Linked DNA regions of Homo sapiens: region 2 is linked to region 1. The links come from fine-mapping of genetic effects on gene expression. A gene starts in region 1. The other region holds a variant in brackets. All regions are shown on one strand. Distances are from middle to middle.

Region 1 (4,380 bases):
GACACCTTTTCAGACTTCTGGCCTCCTGAGCTACAGAGAATCGATTCCTGTTCTTTTAAGCCCTCCCATTTGTGGTAGTTTGTCACAGCGGCCACAGGAAGCGAATGCCCTGAGCTCTGCAGTGCAACTCTGGCATCTGACTGGGCCTCTGAGCCGGGATGGGGTGAAAAGTTTTAGCTACAGGATGATTTTGATGCAAAGATTTAGACACAAATGCCAGGCAACCCAGAAGAGGAGAGTGCTGCGCTGAGCATGAAGGAGGCGGGAGGCACGCACTGCAGCCCTCCACCCTCTGCCATCCTGGATCCACACCCCACGCAGAAACAGCTCCCAGCTCAGTGGCCGCCTTAACTTATGCCAAGCAAGGACAGAGTGGCTGCCTGGACATTCTCCCACACAGCTGAGGAGTGTGTGTGTGGGGCGGGGTGGGGGGGGGGGCGGGAGGGGGAGGGGTCCCAAGGCCCAACTCCTACAAATCCAACTCCCAGGTCCTTTTATCCACAGCCTCCTTCTGGGCCTTGGCTACATCCTGCCCCAGCACGTGCTGGTGAGCCAAGGAGCCTGGACAGGCCTGCACTCCTCGTGGACCCCCAGAGAAAGGCCCATTATGGCTCCCTCATCAAAGGAACCTCTCCTTCACCCACAAATCTTGCTGAGCACCAAGGCTAAACTGGAGAAAAGACCTCATTTCCCCCAAACTGGGTTTTGTGGAAACTGACACAGGCACACACCAAGCCTTCCGCCCAGGTGGCCTGAGCCACCTGAGACCTGTGATCTCAATAGATTGGTGCAACTGAAAACTTCCCCAGCTGGGCACGCAGCTCCTAGGGCTAACCGGGGTGGGGCAAGAAGCCGTGGGCGGGGTATGGGAAGGGCGTGGCTGACAGCAGGAGAAACAGAAAGTCCCACCTCCACTCTGGGCAGGTGAGGGGGCCCCCGCCTTGCTCCATCTGCCCTGGACAGGTCACTCGACTGAGACTCAGACATAAGAAGGAAGGAGGGCAGGGGGCTCCGAGACCACCTGCCGTGTAGCCAGACTTGCCCCAGGAAAACCATGCTGACCAGCACCAGGGCTGCAGAGGCTTGAGGTGCAGGACCAGGGTGGAAACTTCGAGCCAGCGGGTTCCTCCCATTTCTGCTGGTCCTCCCCCTCCATGGATCAGAACAAATAACTGGGCCCCTCCTGCCTCCCTCCATGGCGCCTGTCTTTTGGGGGCTAGGAGTCCGGAGGTCATGGGTATTTGCTGGGGAATCTGAGCAGCAGCACAGTCCCACGTGCCGGGTCCGGTCACCAAAGTCTCCAGCTTTTGTGGACGTCCCGAAAAAGCGGAACATTCGGGGGTCCCGGTCCCTGCCCAGCCAGTTTGCAGGGCCTCCTGGGCAGGGCGCAAGCAAGGAGCCACGCCAGGAGACGCCACCGGCTTTTTCACCTGCCCCTCTGGGCCTGTGGAACCTGCCTCGGGTAGGGCGGGCTTCCATCCCACCCTGGCTTGATCGGGGAGCCCCCAAATGGGGCTGGTGGGAGAAGCCCCAGCAGAGAAGCCCTTCCCCACCCAGCCCCAAGCCCAGAGAAGCCCAACTCCCACCTTATCTGCGAAAGTTTCTTCCTGGGGTCCCCAGTCCTCCAGCCCCCCGCCCCCACGCCGTGTCCCCCACGCTCCCCGCCCCCAGCGCTGGCATCCCAGGGCGCGCCGCCTGCCAAAAGCCAAACTGGCTCCCTTTCCTGGGGCTGGAGCTGCGGCGGAATTTCGGTGGAATTTTGAGGTTGAGACGCATCTCGGCAAAGAGAGGGAAAGAAAGGGAGAGGAGGGAGGGGGGAAAGAAAGTCGGCTCTGGGCGTCCACTTGCAGGATTCGAGAAGGCGCCGAGGGACCAGGAGGCGGGCGCTGGGGTCCCTCGGCCAGCGGCGGGCGGGCGGGGCGTCTGCGAACCCTCGGGGTCGCGGGGGAGGTGGGGCCCCGCGCGGGGGCTGGGGTCGCCGCTCCTTACCTACATCTGCATTGCAAAACGCCTGTTGCGGGTGCACCGGGGAGCAGCTGCAGGCGTCGGCCGGGCGAAGCAGCGTCGCCAGCAGCAGGAGGCCGAGCGCCAGCCGCAGGGTGCGGGCCGCGGCGCCCATGGCGGGCCGGGGGGCTGGGCGGGCGGGGGCCGCCGCTGGGGGGTCCGGGCGCTGCTCGCGGCGGCGGGCTGGGGGCGCGGGCGGGGGCTGAGCCGGGGCCGAGGCGGGCCCCTCCCGCGCGGCTCACCCTCCTCACCTGCCCCGCTCGGCCGCGCAAACTTTCTCTCCTCTTTGTCTCGGGGGCGCGAGGGGAGGGGCGCGGGGCGCAATTCGCCGGGCGGGGCGGCGGGGTGGGGGGCGGCGGGCGAGCGGCGCTGCGGTTCTCGGCGGCCGCGCTGCCTTCTACGGATGTGTTTGCTGCGGGCTTGGGCCGGGCCGCAGTTTTATTGCGCTCGGAGGATTTTCTGCTCCTCCTCCCGGTGGCTGGCGGCCAATGCAGGCTCTGGGCGCTCCCAGCAGCCCCCTCCTCCCCCTCCGCCCGCGCCTCCCCCCAGCCCGCGCTTTTGTTGTGCCCGGCCTGGCACGTCGGGGGCTTCCCGCACCACCTGGCGCCCGCGACCCGCACCCGCGCGGGGGTCCCCGGACGCCCCCAGCCCCCCGACCCCGGTCCCCGCTGCGTGGCCTTCTGCGCCCGGGGTCCCTGACTCAGCGCGGGGGACTCGCGCCCCGTTCTTCCAGGACACCAGGCGACCCACCCGCTACCCTTTCCCCTTCAGCTCGACTCTGGAGGGCTACGCTGCTCCGTCCCCCGCCACCCCGGGGTCCCTTCGAGCCCAGCCTCGGGGCGAGCCAAGGGGTGTCCTTTGGAGCAGGGGCCGTTCCCTGTCGCCACCTCCCCGTTTCTGTGGGCGGGTGGCCTATTGAGAAACTGACAGGATCCCTTTTTCAAATGGAGGCCTTAGAATTTTAAGTGCGCCTGGCCAGTTTAGTTGGGGGGTGGGGGGTGTGGTTACTGTGAACAAAACAGGATTTTATATAAACTGGCCATATTTTTGACCAGCCAACAAGAGACGGGGGTGGGCCCAGGCGCCCAGGAGCCAGTAGGATCGCAGCAGAGGCATTGGCTGGGTTCCGCTCACAGTTTCCTCTCTTAGTCCACAAATGTGGGAGCCGAAGGACTTTTCCCAAAACAGTTTTGTGTTCCAGGAAAGACCCAGGCATATGAAGGGATGAACATGTGTAGGGTGGTGAGGCGGGCTTCCTGGCTGTGAACCTGCCTGTGCCCGGCTGTGGGCACCCACCCTGTACATTTGGTGTGTGCCCCGTGGGGCTCCATGGACACTGCTGCACTCAGGTCAGCACTCCAGCCCTCAGGTCAGCATTCCAGAGTGTTTGCAGTCCAGCTAGGGAGAGGGAAGCCCAGGAAAATGACACAGGAAGAATCAGGGCGGGCACGGTGGCTTGCGCCTGTAATCCCAGCACTTTGGGAGGCCGAGACAGGAGGATCACTTGAGGCCAGGAGTTTGAGACCAGCCTGGCTAGCATTTAGTAGAGACAGTGAAACCCCGTCTCTACTAAAAATACAAAAAATTAGCCGGGCTTGGTGGTGGGCGCCTGTAGTCCCAGCTACTCGGGAGGCTGAGGCAGGAGAATGGCATGAACCCAGGAGGCGGAGCTTGCAGTGAGCCGAGATCATGCCACTGCACTCCAGCCTGGGGGACAGAGCGAGACTCCATCTCAAAAGAAAAAAAAAAAAAAAAAAAGCCCGGGTGCAGTGGCTCATGCCTGTAATCCCAGCACTTTGGGAGGCTGAGGTGGGCGAATCACGAGGTCAGGAGTTCGAGACCAGCCTGGCGGCTAACACGGTGAAACCCCGTCTCTATTAAAAACACAAGAAATTAGCCGGGCGTGGTGGCGCGCGCCTGTAGTCCCAGCTACTCAGGAGGCTGAGGCAGGAGAATCGCTTGAACCCGAGAGGCGGAGGTTGCAGTGAGCCGAGATTGCGCCACTGCACTCCAGCCTGGGCGACAGAGAAAGACTCTTGTTTTTTTTTGTTTTTTTTTTTTTTTTTTTTAAAAAGAATTGCCCACTAAATTGTGCGGTGCTGACTTGAGGTATGAAACTTTGGAAAATAGTGAAAGAATGGAAAAACAGCTTCTTTCTGTTTGTGTATGTTTTGTAACAGACAGTTCTGAGAAAAGTTAAATAAGCAATGCCGTTATTTTTAGCACCCTGACAAATCCAAAGTCACTTTTTTGGTTTTTGTTAGCGTGAAATAGAGTTGGGTCGTTCACAAAATGATGTTTGAAGCTAACGTTTAAAAGTACAGTTAATTCAGAAAATTGTTATGTGCTGGCTGCCTTCAGCCATTTCATCGTTTT
Region 2 (4,380 bases), 55 kb before region 1:
ACATCTGTGTGCTCCATGATGACCAGAGCCAAGGATCTCACCGTGGGAATCTCCCATTGTCTCTAACACGGGGCTGGGCACCTAACAGGTGCTCACTAAGCACACATTGATTTTTAGAAGGGAAAAAAGTACATGTCACCTAAACCAGAAGAAAATCCCCCAATCATGGATATTTGGATTTGGAGTATATGTTTATGATTACAGTTGCCTTTTGGAACAAACTATAGTACCAGGCTAGGGGAATTGTCTTGTCTCTTCTTTCTTTTCTCTTTTTTTTTTGTGAGATGGGGTCTTGCTCAGTCACCCAGGCTGGAGTACAGTGGCGTGATCTCAGCTTGCTGCAATCTCTGCCTCCTGGGTTCAAATGATTCTCATGCCTCAGCCTCCTGAGTAGCTGGGACTACAGGCACTTGCCACCACGCCCAGCTAATTTTTGTATTTTTAGTACAGACAGGGTTTTACCATGTTGGCAAGGCTGGTCTTGAACTCCTGACCTCAAGCAATCCGCCCGCCTCAGCCTCCTACATTGCTGGGATTACAGCCATGAGCCACTGCACCAGGCCTTGTCTATTCTTTTTTTCTTAAGTTTGTGATCAGATTCCTACTTCCCCAGGGAGGAGGGGAATAATGTTCCTTAACTGGCTGAGTCAGTGCCATGCTAGACTGCGGCTGCCGGCCACATGTGGCTGTTTACATTTATACTAAAATTACTTGAAATGAAATAAAATTTAAAATGCAGCTCCTCGGCTGCACTAGCCATATCTCGGGTGCTCATGAGCCACAAGGCTGGGGGCTGCTGGACTGGATGGTGCAGAGACCGCTTCCATCACTGCAGAAAGCTCTTTGAGCCCAGTGGTTCTCAAGCAGGGGCAATCTACCCCACCTCCCCTGGGCACATGTGGCAATGTCCAGAGACCCCGCGACTGGAGCGGGTGCTGTGGCATGTAGAGGGTGGGGGCCAGGGATGCAGCTGAATATCCTATAATGCATAAGGTAGGCCCCCACAACAAAGAATGGTCCATCCCCAAATGTTAATAGTGCTGAGATTGAGAATCCTGTCCTGGCCTCCTGTGGTTCAGCCTAGCTGGGCAAGCAGAGGAGGCCGTAGAAGGAAGTAAGGGAAAATAATTTTACTTAGGAATAAAAATATAGGCTGGGCACAGTGGCTCACGCCTATAATCCCAGTACTTTGGGAGGCTGAGGCAGGAGGATTGCTTGAGCCTCGGAGTTCAAGACCAGCCTGGGCAACATGGTGAGACTTCTTTACCAAAAAATAAAAAAATTAGCTGGGTGTGGTGGCACACACCTGTAGTTGATCTCAGCACTTTGGGAGGCTGAGGCGAGAGGATCACTTGACCCCAGGAGATCGAGGTTGCAGTGAGTCATGATCGCACTCCAGCCTGGGAAACAGAGCAAGACTTTGTCTCAAAAAAAAAAAAAACAAACCAAAAAACTATAAACAAAGAGATGCAACAATAAACAAAATGTGCTACATTCATACAATGAAATATTATTCATCCTTAAAAAGTAAGGACATTTTGGGCCGGGTGTGGTGGCTCACGCCTGTAATCCCAACACTTTGGGAGGCTGAGGTGGGCGGATCACCTGAGGTCAGAAGTTGGAGACCAGCCTGGTCAACGTGGTGAAACCCTGTCTGTACTAAAAATACAAAAAAAAATTAGCCAGGTGTGGTGGCGTGTGCCTATAATCCCAGCTACTTGAGAGGCTGAGGCAGGAGAATCGCTTGAACCTGGGAAGCGGAGGTTGCAGTGAGCCGAGATAGTGCCATTGCACCCCAGCCTGGGAAATAGAGCGAGACTCTGTCTCAAAAACAAAAAAAAGAGTAAGGAAATTCTGATGTATGCTGTAACGTGAACGAACCTTGAAAACATGATGCTACTGAAATAAGCCAGACAGAGAGGACAAACACTGCAGGGTTCCACCCATGTGAGGCCCCTGGAGTAGTCAAATCCACAGAGACAGAAAGTAAAATGGAGGTGGGCCAAGGCTGAGGAAGAGAGAAGGGGGAGTTAGTGTTTAACGGGGACGGAGTTTTGGTTTGGGAAGATGTGGAGACAGATGGTGGTGATGGTTGCACAATAGCGAATGTATCTAATGCCACTGAAGTGTACACTTGAAAATGGTTGGCCGGGCGCGGTGGCTCGCGCCTGTAATCCTGCCACTTTGGGAGGCCGAGGTGGGTGGATCACCTGAGGTCAGGAGTTCGAGACCAGCCTGACCAACACGGTAGAACCCCATCTCTACTAAAAATACAAAAATTAGCTGGGCGTGGTGGCGTGTGCCTGTAATCCCAACTACTCGGGAGGCTGAGGCAGGAGAATCGCTTGAACCCAGGAGGTGGAGGTTGCAGTAAGCCAAGATC[G/A]CACCACTGCACTCCAGCCTGGGCGACAGAGCGACACTCTGTCTCAAAAAAAAAGAAAGAAAGAAAGAAAGAAAGAAAGAAAATGGTTAATTAACATGGCTACATTTTGTTACGTATTATTTTACCACAATAAAAAAAGGAGACAGATGAATGAATAAGTCAAGCAGGTCTCGTGCATAGTATCCACAGATGTTACGCGAGCTTTTGGCCCTCCCGACGGCAGAAAGGGTTTCTCTGCCCTGCATGTCTCCAGCATCCCGCACTCGCCTCCCTTTTAGGAACAAAAGGCAAAAATGCTCCCTTTTTTTTGTCCACCAATCTCAAATTTCCCAGGAAATTGGCAGGTAGTGAACATTCACTAGCATTCTCTGACGGGAAGTGGCCGAGAGGGCTCCGTACCCTGCCTCACTGTTCCTCAGCTACTCCGCCTCCCCACCCCCCGAGCCTGGGAAACGAGCCCTGGACCGCGTCTAGGAACAGCCCCACTTCTGTGCCAGCCTCCGGCTGATGGCCCCACTCATACACACCTGCAATGAGATATTCCTTCTTTCCTCCAACGTCCAGCGAGACCCCACACACTGCCGAGGAGGGGGCCGTGTAGATAAACTCTATATCCTTCTCAGGCCCTTTGAACATCTGGAAAGACAAGGAGGAGGACATGTAAGCAGAGGGAGGCCACACAGTTGGTGAATTCCGTTCCCATCCAGAACACCCTGGGCGGCACAACCTGTAGCTGGGGTACAGCCAGCACCCAAGAGGACCAGGAAGTGCAAATACATGGGTTAGGAAAAGACCGTTCCAGCTGGGCTCAGGGCTCATGGCTGTAGTCCCAGCACTTTGGGAGGCTGAGGTGGGCAGGTCGCTTGAGGTCAGGAGTTTGAGACCAGCCTGGCCAACGTAGCAAAACCCTGTTTCTACTAAAAATACAAAAATTAGCTGAGCATGGTGGCAAGCGCCTGTAATCCCAGCTATGTGGGAGGCTGAGGCAGGAGAATCGCTTGAACCTGCGAGGTGGAGGTTGCAGTGAGCTGAGATGGCGCCACTGTACTCCTACCTGTATGACAGAGTAAGACTCCGTCAAAAAAAAAAAAAAAAAAAAAGAAAAGAAAAAGACTTCTTATAGCAAAGTGATTCTTTGGAGTCACTCAACTTTTAGTGTGGCAGATCACAGCAGGTGAGCACAAGACTCATCTGTGCCGGGCGAAGTGGCTCACACCAGTAATCCCAGCACTTTGGGAGGCCGAGGCAGGCAGATCACGAGGTCAGAAGATCGACACCATCCTGGCTAACATGGTGAAACCCTGTCTCTACTAAAAATACAGAAATTTAGCTGGGCGTGGTGGCGGGCGCCTGTAGTCCCAGCTACTCGGGAGGCTGAGGCAGGAGAATGGCGTGAACCCAGGAGGCGGAGCTTGCAGTGAGCCATGATCGTGCCACTGCGCTCCAGCCTGGGAGACAGCAAGACTCCATCTCAAAAAAAAAAAAAAAGACTGTCATCTGGAGCATGACATCCTCAGACAACACCTCTGTTCCCTCACCCCCCACCCCAAAGAGGTCATTTCTGAATCTATGGGGAGGGGCTTTTGTACCTCCACGTGACTCTGGACCACCATGAAGGACCATGACTTTTGCATATTTCCAGGAATTTTTTATTTTTTTGAGATAGGGTCTCACTCTGTTGCTCAGGCTGGGGCTGCAACCTCAACTTCCCAGGCTCAAGTGATCCTCCCACCTCAGCCTCCCGAGTAGCTGGGACTATAGGCGCATGCCACCATGCTTGGCTTTTTTTTTTTTTTAATTAGCAGAGACGAGGTCTCGCTCTATTACCCAGGCTGGTCTCAAACTCCTGAGCTCAAGCAATCCTCCTGCCTCGGCCTCCCAAAGTTCTGGGATTACAGGCATAAGTCACTCCACCCAACCTATATTTCCAGGAATTTTGGTCAAATATTGTCTACTTGATGGCAATGAGAGCAGAGAGGCACCTCAGGAATTAGGAC

Evidence for each region. PIP is the estimated chance that this variant, and not a neighbour inherited with it, causes the effect.
Region 2: its variant is the best candidate, but not a certain one, in a credible set for the expression of TIMP2 in whole blood (TOPMed, PIP 0.51).

Annotation. Positions count from the first base shown.
Region 1 is chr17:78,922,970-78,927,349 of GRCh38, forward strand. TIMP2 (TIMP metallopeptidase inhibitor 2) reads right to left here and starts at 2,418. Exons shown (of 5, transcript NM_003255.5): 1 at 1,990-2,418. The coding sequence starts at 2,119. RefSeq lists an enhancer at 578-647.
Region 2 is chr17:78,867,988-78,872,367 of GRCh38, forward strand. It overlaps TIMP2 (TIMP metallopeptidase inhibitor 2), which reads right to left. Exons shown (of 5, transcript NM_003255.5): 3 at 2,911-3,019. It overlaps LOC124904068 (a long non-coding RNA gene), which reads left to right. Exons shown (of 2, transcript XR_007065924.1): 2 at 1-243. Among named protein-coding and RNA genes, the nearest start is that of USP36, 29 kb to the left of the region's middle. The variant G/A (reference allele first, on the strand shown) is at 2,384.